Regions from separate parts of the Homo sapiens genome. Here region 2 is reported to be linked to region 1. The links are microRNA targets in miRTarBase. Many come from high-throughput screens and were not tested one by one. Region 1 holds a microRNA gene; the other region holds the end of a gene's coding sequence.
The links. Region 1 holds the annotated microRNA hsa-miR-6743-5p (AAGGGGCAGGGACGGGUGGCCC, at 2,229-2,250, shown strand). A microRNA usually pairs through its seed, bases 2 to 8, with sites in the 3' UTR of a target mRNA and lowers its output. Matches are read on the target gene's strand: a 7mer-m8 pairs with bases 2 to 8, a 7mer-A1 pairs with bases 2 to 7 and ends in A, and an 8mer does both.

Region 1 (4,148 bases):
TCCTAACGGCAGTGCCGGCCGAAACCCGGCCCTGCTCGGACCCGGAAGGATCCGAATCCGCCCCCCTGACAGGGTCCTCTCGGCCGAGGTCACCCCAGCTGGGCCAGAGGCAGGCGCACGCGGCTCTACAGGCAGCGGCGTCGGTTTCGGCCCGGCCCTGCCCCCAACGGCTCCGCTCTCCCGCGCTCACCCCGAGCCCAGTCCGCCATCGTGCCCTGCCCCGGCTCCTCGACGCGGACACCGACGCGGCCACAGCCGCCTCAGACGTGGCGCAGTCGCGGGGAAAGAGCTTCCGGCCCCGCCCCCAGCTAGCGATGGCCCCGCCTCCGCACCGACCACGCCCCTAGATAGCCCAGCCCCTTCCGCTTCGGGCTCGCTGACTTCCGGCTTAGGGCCGAGGGTGGGGAACTGCCGGGCGCGGAAGCGATGGGCATATCTGTGGCTTATTTTCAGCACTGTCGCGCAGACAGTGGCGCGATCTCAGCTCACTGCAGCCCCCGCCTGCCGGGCTCCCAAGGTGCTGGGATTACAGCAGCACCGCGGATGTGACGTTTGGTGTTCCTGTGAACGTGGGGCGGGGCGGGGCCGTTTGCTTGCTCAGTGCCTAGACGATGGTGGTGGAAAGACGCTTCTGTGGGTTAGGTCCTAACGGTTAGGAAGGATTCACAGGCGGGTCATGAGGAAGGAGCAGACCCCTCGGGCAGAAGCCCGCGAGGAGCACTGGGTGTGGTGGGGGCAGGGGTGCCTCCTCTGTCAAGTGGAGATCGGCGCCTCGCTCGTGCCTGCGAGTGCGCGCCGCGTCGAATACAGCCGTACAGAACGCACTACAGGAAAGTGAAGCCGGGAGAGAGACTGGGAGGCGGCGCGGGGACTGGGGGCCGTAGACGCCTTTGCTCCCGGGCACTTGTTAGAAGAGCGAGTGGATCGCGCTTCCTGTGCGTCACTGAATCCTCATGACGGCCACTGAAACGGACACGCAGGATCTTTGCTTTTCAAGAGGGAACTGAGTCCAGGCCAGACTGGGTTGCTCCCCTTTCTCTCGGCCCCTCCACCTTTGCAAGTGCTGCTCCTTCTGCCTGGAGTGGCTCCTCCAGTCTTTTCCCGGCTCACTTCCCACCGTCCGGTGTCAGCAAAAACAGCACTTCCTCACAGCCCGTTGCAGCCCAGCAGTCGCCTTTTGCTTCTTTTGAAGCACAGCCCTGTGACCGCCTCGTGTCCTTTTGTTTTTCCTTGTCCCCCTTCCCCTCTGGAACATAAGCTCCACAAAGGCAGGGACCTGGGAATCCCGTTCGCCTGCATTCCCCAGCAAACGCCTAACGAACCCAATGGCCCAGGACTGAAAATTCCTTTCCACTTCGGCTTTCCCCTCTACATCCCATCGGTTCTGTGGAGCTCGAGGGGCGTCACTGTGTGTGTGGCAGGGCACGGTGGGGGCTGAGATCGTTTCCTGTTGGAACTTCTGGCCCAAGAAGCGCGGGTCACAAGGAGAGGGGTCAGTTCGGTTCAGAGCGACTCAGCCCCTCGACTCGGGTCTTAAAACCTCCGAGCCGCCAGTTCTGCCTCAGGCCGCGCCCCCTTAAAGCGCCACCAGACGCTGCGCCCCGTTAAAGCGCCACCAGACGCCGCGCCCCGTCCCGGCCTCCCCCGCGCGCTGGCGCGGGGCTTTCTGGGCCAGGGCGGGGCCGGCGAACTGCGGCCCGGAACGGCTGAGGAAGGGCCCGTCCCGCCTTCCCCGGCGCGCCATGGAGCCCCGGGCGGTTGCAGAAGCCGTGGAGACGGGTGAGGAGGATGTGATTATGGAAGCTCTGCGGTCATACAACCAGGAGGTAAGCGGCCGCCTGAGGCCGGGGGGCGGGCACGGAGGGGGTGGGGCAGGGTCGTGCGCGGGTAGCAGGGAGGGCGTGGGTGAGGCAGAGGCTGTGTCAGCAAGCGTAGGGGACGCGGCGGGGTGCGGGGGGCAGGTCTGGGATGCAGTGTTGCGGGGAGAGTGGGGGTGCACCCGTTGGGTGGCAGGCGTGTAGGGATGGGGGCGAGTGCCGACCCTGCCATCCGTTCTGAGCAGTGGCTGCTGCCTGAGTTAGAGGCCAATAGGCCGCCCGCATCAGCGGACGCGGATCCTACCCCTCTGTGGATTTGAATTCACTAGTTCTCTCTGCAGCACTCCCAGAGCTTCACGTTTGATGATGCCCAACAGGAGGACCGGAAGGTGGGTGCTGGCCCAAGGGGTAAAGGGGCAGGGACGGGTGGCCCCAGGAAGAAGGGCCTGGTGGAGCCGCTCTTCTCCCTGCCCACAGAGACTGGCGGAGCTGCTGGTCTCCGTCCTGGAACAGGGCTTGCCACCCTCCCACCGTGTCATCTGGCTGCAGAGTGTCCGAATCCTGTCCCGGGACCGCAACTGCCTGGACCCGTTCACCAGCCGCCAGAGCCTGCAGGCACTAGCCTGCTATGCTGACATCTCTGTCTCTGAGGGGTCCGTCCCAGAGTCCGCAGACATGGATGTTGTACTGGAGTCCCTCAAGTGCCTGTGCAACCTCGTGCTCAGCAGCCCTGTGGCACAGATGCTGGCAGCAGAGGCCCGCCTAGTGGTGAAGCTCACAGAGCGTGTGGGGCTGTACCGTGAGAGGAGCTTCCCCCACGATGTCCAGTTCTTTGACTTGCGGCTCCTCTTCCTGCTAACGGCACTCCGCACCGATGTGCGCCAGCAGCTGTTTCAGGAGCTGAAAGGAGTGCGCCTGCTAACTGACACACTGGAGCTGACGCTGGGGGTGACTCCTGAAGGGAACCCCCCACCCACGCTCCTTCCTTCCCAAGAGACTGAGCGGGCCATGGAGATCCTCAAAGTGCTCTTCAACATCACCCTGGACTCCATCAAGGGGGAGGTGGACGAGGTGAGCACTGACCTTAACCCATGGATGGGTCTCAACTCAGCTCCAACATTTCCTGGACCTGCTTCCTACTGGGTACCTTCAGGTTTCTGGGTGTCAGACATGGAGAGGACAGGACCTCCCAGCCTGTTGGGACAAGGCCAAGGAGATGCCAGTTCTGGGCTGGGACCTCAGGAAAGGCTTCTGAGGGAAGTAGAGGCCCCTTCTGGCTCTTGCTGCCTGGCAGGAGGGCTGTGTGGTGTCTGGGGAGACTGTAAGAGATCCTCCACCATGAGGCTGTGAGTGGGGCTGAGACAGAGTGTGACTTCATCCCTAAGGTATGTGTTAGCATTCCTAATCAGGGAAGTGCTCTTAGAAGAATACTCATGGAGTTTTTAGGAAGACAGCAGTGGTCATCTTTTGCCCCCAGCACTACCCAGAGTCACCTAGGAAGACCCCAGGGGACCAGGTATGCAGTACAGGAGGTGCACAGTCATTGCCACACAGTCCTGGAGTGCAACAGACAGTGGAGCCTCAGCAGGCAGCAGTGGGATGAGTGGGGCTCCTCACAGGAACCCTTCTTTCTTTGGTCAGGAAGACGCTGCCCTTTACCGACACCTGGGGACCCTTCTCCGGCACTGTGTGATGATCGCTACTGCTGGAGACCGCACAGAGGAGTTCCACGGGTGAGAATGGGGCTTTTTCTGGGAGGGAAGTGTGCCCACATGTCTAGATGGTCGTCCTCAACCCCGGCTCTGAACCAGAACCACCTGAGAGCCCAGGCCCCACCCTAGAGAGTCTGACGTTGTCTGGGTGAGTGAGACTGGACATAGCCATGAATTTGGGGGCAGGAATGTGCCAACTGGGCCTTGGGTAGTGGCAACAGTATGGTACTTACTAGGGCACATTGGTTCCTTGTCCCCGTTTTTGGTCTACCTGCCCCTAGGCTGGTCTGGGTTTCCAGAGATGGTCTGGCGCTTTGGCTCAGACAGGGTCGGGGAGGCAGTGTGTCTCAGTGCCCCCACTTCCCCAGGGGACCCCACTGTACAGCTGAGTGGCAGTGCCTCTCAGATCAGTCCCTGCCCTTGGCTTTGGTCCCTAGCGCTGCCCCTTTGGGACTCAGATGCCAGCTCATGTAATGTGTGGTTCAGCGGAGTCACAAAGATTGCACCTGTGCTCAGGGATTAGCCCTGTTGAAACCCCTACCTCCATCTGTCCCCAGCCACGCAGTGAACCTCCTGGGGAACTTGCCCCTCAAGTGTCTGGATGTTCTCCTCACCCTGG
Region 2 (4,000 bases), not on the chromosome of region 1:
TGTAGTGTGTCCCCCTTGGAGAGTTGCCCTGAGGGCCGAGGGACGAGGTCAGAGTGGAGTGGGTGGTAACATGAGCAGCAGGGGTCACAGGAGTGGGGGCGGAGGCCACAGCCAATGTCTCCTGAGTGCTTGGGCAGGCACTGTTGAAGCCTCATGATTTATGTCCATTCTTCCTCCACACGGTGTCCACACACCCATTTCACCATGAGGAAGCAGGCACAGATGCCCCCCGCCTGAGCTCACACAGCCAGGGGGAGGAGGGCTGGGTTCCAAAACAAGTCTAGATGGGCTCTGGGGTCCAGCTCACAGGCCCACTCAGAGTGGGTGTCAGGCGACTGTTGGTCAATTCCTTCCTTATCTGGTGGCCCCATCAGCCTGGAGAGGAAGGCTCTTCCTGAATCACTCAGTGAGGCTTCCATGCCCCTCTTTTCCTTTTATCAGCTCGGAGCCCAAGATCCTCTTCTCCTACAAATGCCAAGTGGACGAGACAGAGGAGCCAGATGTACACCTACCCCAGCCCTACGCTGTGGCCCGGCGGGAGGGCCTGGAGGCTGCAGGGGCTGCTGGGGCCTCAGCTGCCAGCTACTCGAGCACGCAGTTCGACTCTGCCGGCGGGGTGGCCTACCTGGATGACATCGCTTCCATGCCCTGCCACACTGGCAGCATCAACAGCACAGACAGCGAGCGCTGGAAGGCCATCAATGCCTGAGGGCAGCTGCCAGGGCCTGTGGAGGACAGGCCAGAGAGGAGGCCAGCAGGCCCAGAGTCCCCAGGGGAGGAGGACCAGGTCAAGGGACGTTCTGTGGGCAGTAGCCCTGTGTGGCCCTGTTCCCACCATGAGTCTGGAGGCCCCACCTCCCTGGGGCTCCCAATCCCCTTTGCCATCTCTGCTCTCACTGGGGACCCTCCTCCCCTTCCCACCTGCTCTCATACTGCTCAGTGACATGGCCCAGGCTTTCCTTCCAGGGCCATGCTTGGCAAGGTTGGCTGAGGGCACCCTCCTTCTCTGCACCCTTGGCACGAGGGCAGGGCTGGCTCTCCCAATGCCTCCATCCCATCCCCATGGTGCTTTGGCCTCCTCAAAGCATCCACCATGGTGGATGGACTGAAGTGTGTATATTTTCTTGATCTATTTTTTAATAAAAAGGAAAAGGAGCAGAAGGTGCTAATGTGGAGGTTTTGCAGGAATACTGGGGCTGGTTCCTTTCAGGAGCCTGAGGGCTGGGTGAGGGGCTGGGAGGCTCAGGGGGCCTCTGCTCAACCAAGGAGCAGTCCCCAGTGCCCAAGCCCTGGGCTGGCTGCTGGGGAGGTGAAGAGAAACAGGATCCCAGCTGCCGCTGCCCCTGCCCCTGGGCCCATCTGAGTAGGGGGGACAGACATGGAGAGAGAGGAGAACTATGTTTTGTGAGCCAGCCCCTCTCCCTTTGTCAGACACACACTGTTGTCTTGGGCAGCCGGTTCTCTCTGCTCAGCTCCATTAAAACGCAGAATGGACTTACTATTGCCATCTGTAAAATGCGGAGAAGACCCATCCTGCAGGGCCTTTTGTAAGGATTGGAAAACACTAAGCACGAGTGGCTGGCGTACAGTAATGAACGATAAGGATAGCTCTTATTTTTAGCCTCAAGAATAGTGCTTGGCACATAGTAGGCCCCCAGCAGACAGGACTCGGGGACTGATGTTTGTCATAAGGATGGGTGTGGTTGGCTGAAAATGGGAGTAAATCAGAGCAAAGCACTGGGATCATAAGGCATGAGTAGGGGAGAGGGGCCCACTTGTCCCTGCCACTGCCCTTGTACCTGAGTTCGGCTTTGAGCTTTTTGGCAGCCAGAGTGAAAGGGAGTTGCTGCCAGTTATGTAATCCCCAGAGTTGGAGAGGAGGAGCCCATCCAGGACACAGCCAACTGCATGCTTCAGAGCCTGGGGAGGTCTCAGCCCTGGCTGTGGGGACCCTGAGGATCAGGCTGTTGCCCGCCTCCGCGATCAGCCTTTTTTTTTTAGGGGGGAATGGGGTGCCGAGGGCACAAGCTCCAACACAGCTCATGTCTGTGGGGCCAATGTGTCAGGCTCCCTGGGAGGGCCTGGAGGGTTGATAGCGGACAGGGCCAACAGTACGGCCAGTGAGCTGGACTCCTGGGCTGCAGGGGGTACTGCAGGGTGCCCCTGAATGGCATACTTTATCGGGGCCTCTCAGCTCATGTAAAAGCCTGGTAATCAGGGAAGGCAAGCTCACGGCATTCTGAGTGAGCGGGGTAAGGGTTGGGGCCAGCAGGGATTTGACCATCAGATCCACATGCAGTCCAAGATGGCACAGTGTCAGCCGAAGTTTGCTGGCTGCAGTGAATGAGCAGAGAGGCATCAACAGAAGAAAAGAGACCATTTTTATAATTTTTAAGTTTGTTTTTTAAAAATAGGTCATATATGTACATGGCAAGAAAAAAAAAGGTTCATGCAGTACAGGAGGGTATTTGGTGAACGATAAATCTCCCTGTGTGGCACTGAATTCCTCTGTCCCCCTCCTGAAGCACCCAGGGTCTCCATAACCTTCCAGAGCCATCCTGTGTTCACACCAACGGATGTGTATATCATCCCTCTTTCTGTAATGCTAATGTCCTGTAGCTCACTCCAATGGATCTTGGAGATCATTCCATGTCAAGTGGAGGACTGCTTCACCCCTGCAGCTACATATATATGGATATATGGCAATTTATAAACCACTTCCCTTTTGTTTCTGAAAAATTTTGCAACAACAAACAAGGCAACATCAACAATCCTTATAAATTTGCTTTTGGTAACTCATGCAAGTAGAATTGCTGGAGCACACAGTCTTAATTAGTTTTAATTACTCTTATTAGTCTTCTGCAGAGATCAATAGTTGTCCTCCAATATATGTTGTTTTTCTCCATTGGAAGAGAATCCCTGATTTTTCGCTAGATACACAGCTGTCTAGAATAAAGACTGCATTTTCTAGCCTTCCTTGCAGGTGGGTTCTGGCCAATGGATGTAAGTATGCATGCAACTTCCTTAGAGATAAGAGGTGGCCCTTCTTTCCTGCTGACTGGAATGTGCTTATAATGGCTGGAGTGATAGCAGCCATCTTGAACCATAGGGTAATCTGGGGAATGGAAGTTTCTCATTGCAGTGCGACAGGATAGAGAGAGCCGGTGTCATGGACACTGTAGTGCATCTGTAACGACCTCGGACGTCCTACCTTCAGATGACTTTTGGAACGTATGAGAGAAATGAGTGGCTATCTTGTTCAAACCACTTTTGATGTTTCTCTTACAGTTGAACCTAATCTGAACCAAAACACCCATTCCAAGAGGCTATGCCAGCTTTCATTCCCACCGGCACATCCTCACTGACGTGGTATGCCAGTCACATTTTCAGTCTTTCTGAAGAGCCCTGCTCAGACCACGTCTGTGTGGTGTCTGGGTGCGAACAGGCATTAGGCAGAGGAGCGGCTGGATGCGAGGTTTCTGGAGTCTTAACGTGGTGACAGAGTTCACTGTATGTGGCCAAAGTCTAATCTCACCTTCCCACTGCTGCTGCACATGGACTGTGGACCTTGGGCAGGTCACAGCTTCTCCTTGATCCTCAGTTTCTTCACTAGTGGTACAGGGTAGCAGGTGACTGGTTGCCACTGGTATCCATTTTTCCTCCCTCAGTAACTGCACCCTCATGTTTGTGGGTCAGTGAAGCACCCACCTTAGAGGTGTCACCATTGAGAATTTAGGGAAGAAGACCTTGGACACAGGGTCCTCAGTTGCTGCCAAGCTCAGTGCCAGCCACATGGCCCTGAAGCAGCAGAGCTCTGAGACCTGCAGGTCCACCCACCCAGAGCACTGGAGCATGGTGATATAACGGGTGAACGCATGGCCAGTGATGTATGGGTTTGCCAGGGCTGCCATAACAAAGTACTATAGATGGGGGCCTTCAACAACAGGGGTTTATTTTCTTACAGTTCTGGAGGCTGGAATTCCAAGATCAAGGTGTCCAC

Region 2: the mRNA of TPRA1 is a reported target of hsa-miR-6743-5p. Seed matches in the 3' UTR shown: 7mer-m8 at 1,339-1,345, 7mer-m8 at 1,345-1,351 and 7mer-m8 at 2,159-2,165.

Annotation. Positions count from the first base shown.
Region 1 is chr11:207,113-211,260 of GRCh38, forward strand. MIR6743 (microRNA 6743) reads left to right here and starts at 2,224; the gene lies at 2,224-2,294. It overlaps BET1L (Bet1 golgi vesicular membrane trafficking protein like), which reads right to left and starts at 287. Exons shown (of 4, transcript NM_001098787.2): 1 at 191-287. The coding sequence starts at 209. It overlaps RIC8A (RIC8 guanine nucleotide exchange factor A), which reads left to right and starts at 596. Exons shown (of 10, transcript NM_001286134.2): 1 at 596-1,826; 2 at 2,159-2,206; 3 at 2,295-2,888; 4 at 3,459-3,550; 5 at 4,087-4,148. The coding sequence starts at 1,743. RefSeq lists enhancers at 1-14, 561-1,182, 1,038-1,207, 1,183-1,802, 1,877-2,464 and silencers at 1-18, 129-248, 1,310-1,508, 1,509-1,798, 1,869-1,978.
Region 2 is chr3:127,570,230-127,574,229 of GRCh38, reverse strand. TPRA1 (transmembrane protein adipocyte associated 1) reads left to right here. Exons shown (of 11, transcript NM_001136053.4): 11 at 442-2,998. The coding sequence ends at 709. Among named protein-coding and RNA genes, the nearest start is that of MIR6825, 3.1 kb to the left of the region's middle.